Regions from separate parts of the Homo sapiens genome. Here region 2 is linked to region 1. The links come from fine-mapping of genetic effects on gene expression. Tissue or cell type: whole blood. Region 1 holds a variant in brackets; the other region holds the start of a gene. All regions are shown on one strand. Distances are between the middles of the regions.

Region 1 (8,106 bases):
TAAGAGCAGGCTGTCTGGATTAAAATCCCAGTTCTGCTTCTGCTAGGCACAGTATACTAAGGGCAAAGGCGTTCACCTATCTGGACTTCAGTTTTCTTATCTGTAAGTTGGGTAGTAATAGAAGTTATTCAGAGTCATCATAAAAATCAGTTACATGTAAAACCCAGCACAGTGCTTAGCACATAGGAAGTACCCTCTGAATAATAGCTGCCATTATCATCATCATTATTATTACTATTTTTTTTTTTTTGAGACGGAGTCTCATTCTGTCGCCCATGTTGGAGTGGAGTGGACGCAGTCTTGGCTCACTGCAACCTCCACCTCCCGGATTCAAGCAATTCCCTTGCCTCAGCCTCCCGAGTAGCTGGGATTACAGGCGCCAACCACCACGCCTGGCTAATTTTTGTATTTTTAGGAGAGACGGAGTTTCACTGTGTTGGCCAGGCTGGTCTCGATCTCCTGACCTCAAGTGATCCACCCACCTCGGCCTCCCAAAGTGCTGGGATTACAGGTGTGAGCCACCATGCCTGGTTCATCATTATTATTATTATTAGAAGTTGGGAGTCCAGGCCTGCCTCGTCCACATGGCCACTCCTCCCTGCAGTGCCTGGTCAGCTCCCTCTCTGCATTGTGGAGTTTTAACTCCGAGTGTCTGCAGGGATCGCCGTGTTTGGCTACTCCATGGCCGTGTCCATCGGGGGGATCTTGGCTTCCCGCTGTCTGCACGTGGACCTGCTGCACAGCATCCTGCGGTCACCCATGAGCTTCTTTGAGCGGACCCCCAGTGGGAACCTGGTGAACCGCTTCTCCAAGGAGCTGGACACAGTGGACTCCATGATCCCGGAGGTCATCAAGATGTTCATGGGCTCCCTGTTCAACGTCATTGGTGCCTGCATCGTTATCCTGCTGGCCACGCCCATCGCCGCCATCATCATCCCGCCCCTTGGCCTCATCTACTTCTTCGTCCAGGTAAGGGGTGAGGTCTTAGTGTTCGGGACAAGCCCTACTGTGCATTATATACCAGTGTTACCTAAAGCCTTGTTTTATCTTACCATGTCCCCAGTGTGGTGCTTTTGAAGCATGTAGATTTGTTTTTGTCAGTTTCGAATACCTAAATTGTTTTTTTGCTCACAATAACAAAATGCACTTTTTTTGTGGAATGCAGTTTTTTCCTAAGTTTTACTTTTCCACCTGTCAATTCAAAAAGGAAACAAAACCTATCACTATAAAGACAACTTCATTATTAAAATTTCTTTTTTTTTCTTGAGACAGAGTCTCGCTCTGTCACCCAGGCTGGAGTGCAGTGGCACAATCTTGGCTTACTGCAACCTCCACCTCCCAGTTCAAGTGATTCCCCTGCCTCAGCCTCCTGAGTTAACAGGTGCGCACCACCACGGCCGGCTAATTTTTGTATTTTTAGTAGAGACAGGGTTTCACCAGTGTTGGCCAGGCTGGTCTCAAACTCCTGAGCTCAGGTGATCCACCCACCTCGACCTCCCCAAGTGTTGGGATTACAGATGTGAGCCACTGCGTCCAGCCTAAAATTTCTTCAAGTATAAAATTCTTTAGTTCTTAAGCCTCCTGCAGGAGGCAGGAACTAAACAAAAAACATGACTAATAGCAGCCTAAATAAGATAGACGTTTTCTTTTTCTCTGTCATAATAGAAATTTAGAGGTAGGCTGTTCAGGGCTGGTATGGCAGCTTCATGAGTTTAATATCCCAGATACCTGCTTTTATTTAAAAATTTAAAAAATCTTACCATATTTATACAAGCCTTTCATTCTTTCTTTCTTTCTTTTTTTTTTTTAATTTGACATGGAGTCTCGCTCTGTCGCCCAGGCTGGAGTGCAGTGGCGCGATCTCGGCTCACTGCAAGCTCCACCTCTCGGGTTCACACCATTCTCCTGCCTCAGCCTCCCGAGTAGCTGGGACTACAGGCGCCCGCCACTACGCCCAGCTAATTTTTTTTGTATTTTCAGTAGAGACAAGGTTTCACCATGTTAGCCAGGATGGTCTCAATCTCCTGACCTCGTGATTCGCCTGCCTCAGCCTCCCAAAGTGCTGGGATTACAGGCGTGAGCCACTGCGCCCGGCCCCTTTCATTCTTAAGTTGGCCTCATGGTCCAAGGTGGCTGCTGGAGCTCCAGCCATTATATCTATATTTCAGTCAGTGAGATCAAGGAAGGGAAGTAGGGCAAGGGAGCATATGGGTGCTGAATCAGCACTACTCCCTTATCTGCAGGCACACATTCTAAGACTCCCCCAATGGATGCCTTAAACTGCAGATAGTATTGAATCCTACATATCCTGTTTTTTTCTGTACATACATACCTATGATAAAGTTTAATTTATAAATTTGGCATAATAGATTAATAGCAGTAATTTATAATAATAAAATAGAACAATTATAACAATATGCCAGTATCACTACTTCTCCACATTAGAGGCGTTATTTTTATTACTTTTTTTTTTGAGACAGAGTTTAGCTGTGTCCTTCAGGCTGGAGTGCAGTGATGGAATCTCGGCTCACTGCAACATCTGCCTCCCGGGTTCAAGTGATTCTCTTGCCTCAGCCTCCCAAGTAGCTGGGATTACAGGCATGCGCCACACCCAGCTAGTTTTTGTATTTTTAGTAGAGACGAGGTTTCACCATGTTGGCCAGGCTAGTCTCAAACTCCTGACGTCAAGTGATCCGCCCGCCTCAGCCTGCCAAAGTGCTGGGATTACAGGCATTGACCCACTGAGCCCAGCCAGGGGCATTATTGAGTAAATTCGGATTACTTACCCATAAGCACTGCAGTACAATGGCCGTCAGTCTGATAACCGATATGGCTATTAAGTGACTAAACTGACAGGGAGGGTCTGCAGCATGGACCTGCTGGACAAAGGGATGATTCACACCGCGGATGGGACTGGGGGGGATTTCATCACACTACTCAGAAGGGTGCACAATTTAAAACTTACACATTATTTTTGGACCACAGTTGACCATGGATAACCGAAACCATGTGTGTTAGTTTGTCCTCATACTGCTATGAAGAAATACCCAATACTGGGTAATTTATTAAGGAAAGAGGTTTAATTGACTCACAGTTCCGCATGGCTGAGGAGGCCATGGCAGAAGGAGAAGCAAACATGTCCTTCTTCACATGGCAGTAGGAAGAAGAATGAGAGCACCACGAAGTCGGGGAGCCCCCTTATAAAACCATCAGATCTTGTGAGAACTAACTCACTATCATGAGGGTTGGGGGAAACTGCCCCCACGATTCAGTTATCTCCACCTGGTCCCTCCCATGACACATGGGGATTAAGGGAACTACAATTCAAGATGAAATTTGGGTGGGGACACAGCCAAACCATATAACCACGGAAAGTGCAACCTTGGATTAGAGGGACACCTGTACATCTAATTGTCCAGAACTTAGTCATGGGACCACCTCTATTCACAAGGGACCCTGGAAAGTGCCGTGTTTTAGCTGGGCACATTGCACTTCCCAGCAAAAACTTTCAGTTGGGCCTAGGCACGGTGGCTCACGCCTGTAACCCTA[C/G]CCCTTTGGGAGGCCGAGGCGCGTGTATCACCTGAAGTCAGGAGTTCGAGAGCAGCCTGACCAATATGGTGAAACCCCACCTCTACTAAAAATACAAAAATTAGCCAGGTGTGGTGGCATGTGCCTATAGTCCCAGCTGCTCTGAAGGCTGAGACAGGAGAATTGCTTGAACCTGGGAGGTGGAGGTTGCAGTGAGCCAAGATTGCATCACTGCAATCCAGCCTGGGCAACAGAGTGATACTCTGTCTAAAAAAAAACAGAGAAGTTTCTGTTGGGAAAGGAGAAATTGTGTAGGCAGTCAGTCGTCTCTGCTGCATCCCTTCTGCAGAAACGGTTATATGTTCTTTGTTCTTTGAACACATGTGGTTTCTTAGGATATCGCAGGATAGATAATGTTTTCAATTGACAGGTGGAGCATCTTGCTAAGTGGGAGAGCTGAGAGTGCAACCTCAAGTCTGTCCAATTCCAAAACTGCTGTTACCGCTAAAGGATTAACCGCAGCACAATTGCCAGTAGGGATGGGTTGTTTAGATGGGAGCATTCCAGCTGCAAAGCAAAACAAGAGTAAGAAACCATGAGGCTCACCATATCTCAAACCACGCTGCACAGCTGTTCAGGTGGCATCCAGGGGGCCTTGGTTCAATCATGTGGCCCCTGCGCCCCACCACACTGTGGCCCAATGATTGATGAGAACGAACAGTGATGGAATCAGAGAGAGTAGGTCCAGTTCCTGGAGTCTCGTTATATCCTCTTGAAATTGGTGCCAGCTTTTTTTTTTTTTTTTTTTTCCCCTGCATTTACCAAATATGTTATCTGTGTTCATACGCAAGCTGGAAAATTTCCTGAAAGACCCAAAAAGAACAAAACAGGCCAAATGCAGTGTTGAAGGCAACTTAAATGTCTGCCAATAGCAGGACCTTGGGTACACCGTGGAGCAATGTGGCTTTGAGCAGGGATAATTAGAAGACGCAGCTGTTGGAGCACCAAGGATTTTTATTTTTCAACAACAAAGGAAATGATTTTAGCAAAGGACCAAGTTCTAGGTGCACTGTCGTTATCACCGAGATGAAATGCATAATGTGTGTGGGCAGGACTGGAAGGGAGGCAGATACATGAAAACATCGTCTTTTTAAGGGTTGAGATTATAGAATAGTTAATTTTTTAATGGCTTTTGGCTAAATTTACATTTATCCTCTCACTAGGCAGTCTCATTCCTAAGTGTATATTAAAAAAAAAAAAAAAAAAAAAAGAGCAAAGGCAGTGCTTAGAATGTTCTCAGCATCTTGATTCATAATCGCCCAAACTGGAAACAGCTCAAATGTCCATTAACAGGACCGTGGAGAAATAAATTGTGATATAATTATACAATTTATGGTTGAGTAGTAAAAAGGAATGAAATGCTAATACACAACAATTTGGGTTTATCTCAGAGATGTTATAGTGATCAAAAGAAGCCAGACGAAAAAGAGTAGGTACTGTGAGATTTCATTTATATGAAGTTCGGTCGGGTGCAGTGGCTCATGCCTTTAATCCCAGCCCTTTGGGAGGCCTAGACAGGAGGATTGCTTGGGCCCAGGAGTTCGAGACCAGCCTGAGCAACATGGGAAAACCTGGTCTCTACAGAAAATACAAAAATTAGCTGGGTGTGGTGGCGTGAACCTGTAGTCCCACCTGCTTGGGAGGCTGAGATGGAAGGGTCACTTGAGCCTCGGAGGCGGAGGTTGCAGTGAGCTGACATTGTGCCAGTGCACTTCAGCCTTGGTGACAGGGCGAGTTGTCTGAAAAAAACATCAGATCGGCAGGGCAGGTGGATCACCTGAGGTCAGGAGTTTGAGACCAGCCTGGCCAACATGGTGAAACCCCATCTCTACTAAAAATAGAAAAATTAGCCAGGCACGGTGGTGGGCGCCTGCAATTCCAGCTACTTAGGAGGCTAAGGCAGGAGAATTGCTTGAACCTGGGAGGCAGAGGTTGCAATGAGCCAAGATTGTGCCACTGCACTCCAGCCAGGGTGACAGAGCGAGACTGTCTTAAAAAATAAAATAAGATCATTCCTGAACAAATATTCATCTCAGGTTAGATTTTTCCAGTAAGTAAGGTTCAGAGGCAGTGGCAAGTGGAGGAAAGTGAACAGGTAACACACTTGAGAGCGATTTGCATCTGGATTGTTCAGAAAGCAAGCTGGTAAGAGAGGAAGGAGATGTGGTCCAGGGTAAGATGGGGCAGATCACCTGGGCCTTCAGCCATGCAGAGGGGTCTGGATTTCATGGGAGGCGGTGGGAACAGCTGGAGAAGAAATTATATCTGATCCACATTCCAGGAATTGGCAGAACAGCTATTCTGAGACTGCGTGGGGTTGTGCGGTACCTGGGTTCACTTACATAGCTTCTGGGGCCCCAGAAGACTCTCCATCTGTGGGTTGCAATTAACGCCCGTGCCGCCACCCAGGAAGAAGCTGCCAACCACAGAGGCCTTGTAAAAGCCACCTGCTGCTATTGATGCTTTTTGTTGGACTCTGCCCCAAAGCAGCCCAGTACACCTGGCCCAGGGCAGGATGCAGGGAGGCCGAGTTCCTAGCAACCCTTTGTTAGTTTTCCCAGCTCTCCTGTCGATAAGCAATTGTAGGCACCTTGTGGAATCAGGAACCCCGGGCTCACCAGTTCCTTTTGCGTAGATGAGAAAAACCTAGGCTAGGAGAGCGCAGTGTCCTCACATGGCTGGTGCAGCCTCTGATCCACAGCTCCACAAAGCTTGCAGAAGGTGGTTGGCTTTTGTTCTGAATCTAACAAGACTTATCGGGAGGCTCTTGGTGCCTGGCACTGGCTGAATGCCCAGGTTGGGGGAGGCAGAGCAGATGAAGCATCTGCCCGCGAGGGTGGGTGGAGCTGCTTGTGAAACGTATCATCGTAGCCCGGGAGCTGGGACACTGAAGCCCGGAGAAGGTGCTCATGGAGGATGGGAAGGGCTTCCCGAGGAAGTGACATCTGTGCTCCCATCTGCTGGGTGATGAGGAATGGCCTGGACGGGATGGGCATGGTGGGTGGAGGCAGGCGGCCTGTGTGCAGGGAAGGAAGGGGAGAGTTACAGGATGAGATGAGTTGAGGGAAGAAGCATGGTTGGCAACTCTAACAGCGCTGGGAGGCCATCGGAGGGGGGTGACGAGATTGACCCTATCCTCATGGGCATCTCAGCTGGGCTGAGTGTGCTGGAACCGGCCATTGCATGGACACAGTCACTCCTGAGGGGATGTGATCAACAGGCGGAATTCTGTCACTTAATGATAACAATAGTCACCAGCTAACTGAATGCTTACTGTTAGGTCAAACTATATGAAACTGCTAATACTTATTTCTTATCTACAGAAACAGCTATTTCCTGTGGTTCAACCTAGTATTACCAGGCACTGTGCTTAGTGACATCATGCATATCTATATGATTTATGAAATAATGTGTCCACGCAAATACACATCACATGTAAGACTGTAACTCTTACATGTCACCCTCACAATGACCCCGTGAAGCAAGCTTTGTTTTGTTTCGTTTGTTTTCTTAATAATATTTTATTTTTGTAGAGATGGCATTTTGCCATGTGCCTGGGCTGGTCTCAGACTCCTGGCCTCAAGTGATCTCCCGCCTCTGCCTCCTGAAGTGCGGGTATTACAAGCATGAGCCACCCCACCTGGCCGAGCAAGCCTTGTTGTTCCCATTTTACAGATAAGGAAACTGAGGCTTAGAGAAGTAAAGTGTTAGTCGTGTTTATATTGCCAGTCAGTAGTTGAGTCAGGATTTGAACTGAGGTCTCGTTGACCTCAAAGCCTATGCTGAAAACCACACTGCTGGTTCCAGAAAACCCTAGAGGTGAAAGGCTTCAGAGAGGCAGTACAGGGTAGAGGTTAGCACTTTGCAGCCCAGATGGCCTGGGTTTGAATCCCAGTTCTGCCCCTTGCTAGCCATGTGACCTTGGGGAGGAGATTAACTAGCTTCTTTGTGCCTTAGTCTACCCATCACATATAGGAATGAGCACCTCAGGTTTTTTGTGAGGATTGAATGAACTGATGTTTGTAAAACTGCTTAGAACGATGCCTGGGGCTGTGGGCTTTGTATAAGCGTGAGCTATTATTGTCACTGTCCTTGTCATTGGTGGTGCTATTCCTGTGGTTCACCAGGTGAGTGGGCACCCCTGTGAGGGCAGCCCGGCTCTAACATTTTGCCTCCTGGAGGTATCGGTTACGTCTAGATGTTCTCCAGCACAGCCCTGCCCTGGGAGGATGGCAGGAGGGAACCTTCATCAACTCCCCGCGTCTGTTCTCTACCCCAGAGGTTCTACGTGGCTTCCTCCCGGCAGCTGAAGCGCCTCGAGTCGGTCAGCCGCTCCCCGGTCTATTCCCATTTCAACGAGACCTTGCTGGGGGTCAGCGTCATTCGAGCCTTCGAGGAGCAGGAGCGCTTCATCCACCAGAGTGACCTGAAGGTGGACGAGAACCAGAAGGCCTATTACCCCAGCATCGTGGCCAACAGGTGGGCATGGTGGGCCTGCAGGAGCGGGTGGAGGAGGCC
Region 2 (8,106 bases), 170 kb before region 1:
GGATGTAAGCTCACCTTTCTTTTGGAGGCGAGTGGAATTTCTGTGTCACTATGTAATTGTATGTTTCACTTTAGCACGAATTATTAGTTTTCTTTCTTTTTTGGAGATGGAGTCTCACTCTGTCACCTAGGCTGGAGTGAAGTGGTGCGATCTTGGCTCAGAGCAACCTGTGCCTCCTGGGTTCAAGTGAGTGTTGTGCCTCAGCTCCCCAAGTAGCTGAGACTATAGGCATGTGCCACAACGCCCAGCTAATTTTATTTTATTTTATTTTACTTTTGAGACAGAGTCTCACTCTGTCGCCCAGGCTGGAGCGCGGTGGCGCGATCTTAGCTCACTGCAACCTGCGCCTCCCAGGTTCAAGCAGTTCTCCTGCCTTAGCCTCCCGAGTAGCTCGGATTACAGGCATGTGCCACCATGCCTGGCTAATTTTTTTGTATTGTTAATAGAGATGGGGTTTCCTCATGTCAGCCAGGCTGGTCTTGAACTCCTGAGCTCAGGCAATCCACCCACCTTGGCCCACCTTTTTGTATTTTTTGTAGAGATGGGGTTTCACCATGTTGCTCAGGCTGGTCTCAATCTCCTGAGCTCAAGAGATCCACCTGCCTCGGCCACCCAAAGTGCTGGGATTACAGGCATGAGCCACTGCACCCAGCCAAATTGTTAGTTTTCCAAAGTAGTTAAGCCAATTTATATACCTCCCAACAGAGCGTGCCTTTTCCAGTTAATCCACGTCTTTGTCTGCACTCGTAATTTTCAGTCTTTGTTTCCAGTCACTCTGGTGGGTGTATGATGGTATTTCACTGGGGTTTTATTTGCATTTCCCTGATGACTAATGAAGTTGAGCATGTTTTCATGTGCTTGCTCAATAAATATTTGTTGAAAGGATGAATAAAGAGTGAATGAATAAAACATGGAAAGAAATCCAACTCTGTCTTGTGCCCTGCCTAAAACCCACCAGTGGTTCCCACTGCCCCTCCTTTGGCCGACGGGTACCTGCCTGCCCTGGCTCCTTCTGACCCCACCTGCTCCGGATGGATTTCTTTTGCTTCTTCTCTGGGTTCCTGCCATCCAGGCTGTCTTCAGTTTCCTCCAAGGACCCTCCCTGCTTCATAACTTTGCTATAAACTGTTTTCTTCTGCCCAGAACACAACCCAGGCCCAAGGAACCCAGACGCGTTCCTTGTATCTCAGTTTGAAAGCCTCTTCCTCCAGGAAGCCTTCTCTGACTTCCACCCCCCAGCAAGGGTGGTATAAATTGCTAACTTAGGCCCACTTTTGCCCACTTTTTTTGTTTGTGTTTTTGAGATGGAGTCACACTTTGTCGTCCAGGCTGGAGTGCAGTGGGGCCATCTCAGCTCACTGCAACCTCCATCTCCTGGGTTCAAGTGATTCTCCTGCCTTAGCTTCCTGAATAGCTGGGATTACAGGCACCCACCACCATGTCCAGCTAATTTTTGTATTTTTACATTTATTTATTTATTTATTTGAGATAGAGTATTGCTTTGTCGCCCAGGCTGGAGTGCAGTGGCATGATCTTGGCTTACTGCAACCTCCGCCTCCCAGGTTCAAGTGATTCTCCTGCCTCAGCCTCCCGAGTAGCTGAGCCTGCAGGTGCCTGCCACCACACCCAGCTAATTTTTGTATTTTTAGTAGAGATGGGGTTTTACCATCGGTCAGACTGGTCTCGAACTCCTGACCTTAAGTGATCTGCCTGCCTTGGCCTCCCAAAGTGCTGGGATTACAGGCGTGAGCCACCATGCCCGGCCACCACTTTTTTTTTCTAGCTGTGACCATAGTTGTACATATCTCCCCTTCCCTGGCTTTTTTTTTTGTTTTTTTTTTCCTGAGACAGGATCTCGCTGTGTTACCCAGGCTGCAGTGCAGCGGTGCAATCATAGCTCACTGTAGCCTTGAACTCCTGGGCCAAATGAGCCTCCCACCTCGGCCTCCCAAAGCACTGAGATTACATGCGTGAGTCACTACTTCTGGCCTGTAAATACCCTTTCAAAAATATAATATTTGATTAACATCTGCCATCTTACCATAAGAAACACTTAAAAAAATCCCAATCCAAAAAAATTCCAATCCTTTAAGCTATATAAGAGTAGCAATTTTATCTTGTTCCTAGCAAGACATCTGGCATATAGTAAATGCTCAATAAATATTTGTTGACAGTATAAAGGTCAAGCAACAGCATAACTGGCATTATTACATGAAAGTAATTATCCCTTAGAAACTCATTCACCCTTGGGGGACCCGGGCCAATAAAAAAATCACAGAAAACAATCCTATCTACCTTCCTCCTTCCTCCTTCCCTCGCTAGGTCCTTTGATTGGGGGGAGGTCTCAAATGCACACACTGTTTCTGTTTTATTTGGTGCAGCTGTTGTGTGCATGTGTTATGGAAACCCACATCAGGCAGGAGATTAAGGAGGAGAGGAGAAAAGAAAGGCATCGCTGGTATCACAGTGAAATTTACACTCTGCGGCCTCGCCCTAGCTCCTCTGTCTCTACCTGTCTGCCTATGAAACAGTTCAAAACTAATATGGCGCAATGGATGGTATTATAGACTTCCCACCTCCCTGGCCAGACTTCTTGGGTTCAAAGTTTGGCTTAATCACTTACCATCTAAATAATCCCTGACAATGTACTCTGTCTTTCTGGGCCTTAGTGGCCTCATCTGCAAAATGGGGATAATACTACTTCTTACCTCATGGGGTTGTGAGGATTGCACAAGTTAATTTGTGTAAATTGCTAAGAACACAGCCTTAGGAAGCCTTGTCACTGTGAATGCATATTAATTTTTTTTATTATTATTTTTTGAGACAGAGTCTTGCTCTGTTGCCCAGGCTGGAGTGCAGTGGTGTGATCTAAGCTCATTTCAACCTCCGCCTCCCAGGTTCAAGTGATTCTCCTGTTTCAGCTTCTCAAGTAGCTGGGACTACAGGTGCCCGCCACCATGCCCGGCTAATTTTTGTGTTTTTAGTAGAGACAGGGTTTTGCTATGTTGGCTAGGCTGGTCTTGAACTCCTGACCTTATGTGATCGGCCCGCCTCGGCTTCCCAAAGTGCTTGATTACAAGCACGAGCCACCATGCCTGGCCTACGATTATCATGTCTCCAGGCTTCAGTTTCCTTACCTCTGAGGTGAGGATCAATAACCTGGTTATTTCTAAGTGATGCTTAAAGAGGTTGAGAAGAAGCAAAGGCGCTCTGCACACAGGTGAGGTCAACAGCTGTTAGTGATGGAGACTGGCGCCGTCTGGGTCATCAGTGCTCCGGAATCAGGCTGCTCACGGGTTTGAATCTCACTTCCACTTTCACTCCTTATTAACTGTGTGACCTCGGGCAAGTCACTTCGCCTTTCTGAACCTCAGTTTCCCCATCTGTAAAAGGTAGGTGAATAACAGTATTCACCTCCTTCTGTGTGACTCAGCTTTGGAGTCAGCGGACCGGGTTCAAATCCCAGCCCTGCAAGTGATTAGCCAGGTGACCCTGGGCAGAGGGAATCACTCAACCTCTCTGCACCTGGGTTTCTTCCTTCATGAACGTGGAGACTTTACAGGATGAAATGAGGGCACAGTTAAGGCGCCCGGTACACTCCAGGCAGGTAGGGGGCTCCGTTCACGTTATTTTCCCCTGGTGACGGATACTGTCCTTAAACAGCATTTGAAAAGTGGTCGCAGGGTGTGTGGCCCCAAAGATCCCAGGCGCTTCCGGAAGGCGAGCCAACGCTCCCCAGGCCCGTCCGCGAGCGGGTGGGCCTAAGCCTTGGAGGATCTGGGGTGGGGGTGGCGCGGGGTCCAGGCCCGGGGCGCCGAGAGGTGGCTGGTCCGGCTGCCCACGCCGAGACGCGCGAGGTGAGCGGGCGCCGGGGCGGGGCGGGGTGGGGCGGGGCCGCCGCATCCCCGTGACGCGCGGGCCAACCAGGCGGCGTTGCGGCCCCGGCCCCGGCTCCCTGCGCCGCCGCCGCCGCCGCCGCCAGCGCTAGCGCCAGCAGCCGGGCCCGATCACCCGCCGCCCGGTGCCCGCCGCCGCCCGCGCCAGCAACCGGGCCCGATCACCCGCCGCCCGGTGCCCGCCGCCGCCCGCGCCACCGGCATGGCGCTCCGGGGCTTCTGCAGCGCCGATGGCTCCGACCCGCTCTGGGTACGTGCCGGGGGCCGCGTGAGGCCGGCGGGACGGAGGGAGGCCGGCGGGGAGGGAAAGCACCGGGCCCGCAGCCGCCCGGGGCACCCCGCTCCCCGCTCTGCTGCCGGCCTCGGGGGCCCGGGACCCTCACGTCGCCCGCGGCCCAGCCCCTTTCGGGGGTGCAAGGCATGGGGGAAACTTGGGTGACTCAGTTCCTGCGGAGCAGAGCGTGGGGGGCCGCGTGCCCAGCCCTGGGGTTTTGGAGGGTCGGGTCGGGTCAGAGCCGCCGTGAGGAGGCCTTCCTGTTTTGGGGTTCCCGTCTGTAAAAACAACCTTCCAGGGAAGGGGACGCTAGAGATGGGGGGCGGGAAGAGGGGTGTCTCTCTGCTTCTGTTTTCCCATCTTTTTTGTGGTTAGGGTCCCCCCTTTTCACGAAAAATACTCCGTGACCAACGGGGTGAGCTGGGGAGGGGCTTAGATTGTAGAAAGGGACTTTCATTGTCTCCCCAAAGTTGTCGTACAAGCCACATTACTCTTCTGTGGTTACCTAGCTTTGTTTTTTTTGTTCTTTCTACTTAGATACTGCGGGGGAAGTTTGGGGGAACCAGGGAAGAAGGGGGATGTCCACCCTTGATGTGCCCTACCTGACCCTCGGCTCGGGGCAGACTTGGGGTGCAGCTGAGGACGCCCAGGACCCTGGTAGCTGTGGTCCTGCCCTCCCTTCCCTGCAACACGTGGAGCTCCTCTCTGGGGATGCCCCTTAGATTTAACCCCGGCAAGTTTTCTTCTGTAACGTGGCCTGCGGAGCCTGACTGGGTGTCTGGAGTCCACTTGCTGTGGTTTAAGCCCCAGTCTTTTGGGCTTCAGCTTCTCCGTAATGCGATTTGCCTCTTTGTTCCAGGAAGGCAGGCACTTCTGTCTCGTGCTGTCTTGATTGTTGGTGAACGCAGTAGGCAAATCTGGACACGACTGTTTCTCTCTCCTCTTTTGTTTAGGAATCAGGAGAAACAGCCTTGGTTCTTAGGAGCTGGTGATCAGCTTCCAAAAATACTTTCTTGTCCTGTTTTGCCGGCCTTTCCTCGAGGGTTGCATTTGGAGTGTTGAAAAGTCATCCTCCAGGGCCCCATTGGAGGGTTTGGTTTTGTTTGTTTGTTTTTTTTAGTAGGGTATCATTGTGTTTAATAACCTACCACACTTTGATATATCTCCCATTTTAAGCCAGTGGGGTTGGAGAGTAACCCCAGGGGTGGAAATAGAACACAGACTTTGCCTTGAGGGTCTGGGGGTGATTGGAGCCTCTTTGCAGATGGACTTTCTTTAGCAGGGGAAAACCTGTGGCTTCCTTGTTGCCAGGTGTAGTAACAGCAAGATTATTTTTTGCAAAGATTCACATGGTGATCTGGGTTTGTGTTGCTGTGAATTCCAGAATATTCTCTTGTTTATTTTCTTCTGAATTGAGGAGGGGGCAAAACAGGGTGAACATCCATGAGGTTTTGTATCAGGACGTATTTTATTGATGGCAATTGGTAGTTGATGGCTAATGAGTATGTTTGGGGTGCGCTTTGTTTATCTTAAGAAACTCATTCACGAAGTCCAGTTGTAATATTTTTTAAAATTTTTATTTTCTTTTTTCTTTTTATTTTTTCCTTCGTTAAGGACTTTCTGCCACAGAAATTGCCAGGTGGTTGGGTTTTGCTTGGGGGTAATTGTAGCTGATCTCTGCCTCTGGTAGGTACCCCATCCCCGTGTTTGACCTTGCGTATTTCTGCTGTCTGGATTCCAAGACTTGTTGGAGGTGCCTTGGAACCAGAATTTGAGAGGAGGCAACTGGGGCCTGAGTGGGAAAATTGAAATATAATTAACTGAAAGCTAGAAAGTAGGTAGTTGTTGCTTTTTTCTTTTCTTTTTTTTTTCTTTTTCTTTTTTGAGACAGAGTCTTGCTCTGTCACCCAGGCTGGAGTGCAGTGGCACGATCTCAGCTTACTGCAATCTCTGCCTCCCCGGCTCAAGTGGTCCTCCTAACTCAGCCTCCCAAGTACCTGGGACTATAGGCGTGTGCCACCACGCCCAGCTAATTTTTGTATTTTTTATAGAGACAGATTCGCACTATATTGCCCAGGCTGGTCTCCTACTCCTGGGCTCAAGCGATCCTCCTGCCTTGGCCTCCAAAAGTGTTGAGATTACAGGCATGGGCCTCTGTGCCCGGCTGTTTTTGTGTTTTTCAAGGTAGCGTGTCCGAGGCCAGGAGCGACTGGCCTCCCAGGCAGTCAGATAACTGTGTGACCTTGAGCAAGCCACTTTCCCTCTGTGTGCCTCACTTTCCTCATCTCTAAAATTGGACAGGAGCCAAAAATGTGGCAGCCTTCTTGGGTTGTTGCGAAGGGTCAATGAGTTAATCTTGTAAGTGGCTCAGCTTGTGCCCTGCACGGAGATAAACAATGGTTAGTATTAAATATTATTTTTTCCAAAGATGAAGTTGTGTGTTTTAAGCTCCTTGTTCTTCCTTTGGATTCCCCTTTTCTTCAGCTGGTGGAGATGGGATTGGGCTGTGAAAAGGCAGTGAGGCACCCGTGCCTGGCTCCTGTTGTGACCAAGGTCATGTGCTTAGAAGTCAAGGTCAGTGGGCCTCGGGTGACTCTGTCAGAGCTTTGTTTCTGGGCTACTGTCTGCCTCTGAGCCGCAGGAAATGTCCAGAAAACCCAGAAGATGGAAATGGCCCATGATAAGTGTTCTGTTGACCTTTACTCAGACAGATGCTCTGGGAAGAGAAAAGGAGAACTTTGCTATCAAAACGGAAAATAGGGCCTGAGGACAGGTCACAGCAGCCCTTGGCTTTCTTTTCTCATGGGGGTGGGACTGGTAGGAGGCGCTGCTTTGTGGTTGATATTGGCATGATGGTTGGAAAAATGGGCCTGGGACTTTTTGTGAGTTCATTAAAAAAAAAAAAAAAAAAAAAAAAAAAAGCAGGCCGGGTGCAGTGGCTCACGCCTGTAATCCCAGCACTTTGGGAGGCTGAGGCAGGCGGATTGCTTGAGGTCAGGAGTTCGAGACCAGCCTAGGCAACATGGATTGACCCCCGTCTCTACTAATAATACCAAAAAAAAAAAAAAAGCCTGGCATGGTGGTGTGGCACCTGTGGTCCCGGCTACTAGGGAGGCTGAGGCACTAGAATCACTTGAAGGCTGTGGGGGTGGAGGTTGCAATGAGCTGAGATCACGGTCACTGCACTCCAGTCTGGGCCACAGACTGAGACCCTGTCTCAAAAAAAAGAGGGCCGGGTGTAGTAGATCATGCCTGTAATCCCAGCACTTTGGGAGGCCAAGGCAGGCGGATCACCTGAGGTCAGGGGTTCAAGACCAGCCTGACCAACATGGCAAAACCCCATCCCTACTAAAAATACAAAAATTAGCTGGGCCTGGTGATTCACGCCTGTAATTCCAGCTACTTGGGAGGCTGAGGCAGGAGAATTGCTTGAACCTGGGAAGAGGTTGCAGTGAGCTGAGATCACATCACTGCACTCCAACCTGGGCGACAGAGAGACTGTCTCAAAAGAAAAAAAAAATTGTGCTTCAGGCCCTGTGTAGAAAAATTGGAAATTATGGAAAAGCAGAGGAAACAACTTGGTATTAAGCAGTATAGTGTGGTGGCTCAGAGCAAATTCGCCTCTGCTGCTGAGGCAGGTTACGTCATCTCTCCGTGCCTCAGTTTCCCTATGTGGGATAACGTAGTACCTAGTGAATAGCGGTGACTTGAGGAATAAGTGAGTTAATCCTTAGCAAGGACTTAAAATGTTGCTGCTTGGCACACAGCGCTCAGTAAAGATCAGTGGTCGTTGCCACCTGGAATTCTCCAGTTAATTTTTGCTGTTGCACCAACTGCCACTGGAGAAGACCAGAAGGAAGCTGCAGGTGTGTGTCACCGTCGATGGAGTGAGCTGGTCCCAGGGTTGATGTGCACCTCTGAGATGCTCTGTGGCAT

What was found. PIP is the estimated chance that this variant, and not a neighbour inherited with it, causes the effect.
Region 2: it holds the start of ABCC1, and the variant in region 1 is fine-mapped to the expression of ABCC1 in whole blood (TOPMed, PIP above 0.99).

Annotation. Positions count from the first base shown.
Region 1 is chr16:16,114,108-16,122,213 of GRCh38, forward strand. ABCC1 (ATP binding cassette subfamily C member 1 (ABCC1 blood group)) reads left to right here. Exons shown (of 31, transcript NM_004996.4): 23 at 659-969; 24 at 7,868-8,067. Among named protein-coding and RNA genes, the nearest start is that of ABCC6, 110 kb to the right of the region's middle. The variant C/G (reference allele first, on the strand shown) is at 3,550.
Region 2 is chr16:15,945,654-15,953,759 of GRCh38, forward strand. It overlaps ABCC1 (ATP binding cassette subfamily C member 1 (ABCC1 blood group)), which reads left to right and starts at 3,963. Exons shown (of 31, transcript NM_004996.4): 1 at 3,963-4,146. The coding sequence starts at 4,099. LOC107984869 (a long non-coding RNA gene) reads right to left here and starts at 3,518. Exons shown (of 3, transcript XR_001752339.2): 1 at 3,138-3,518.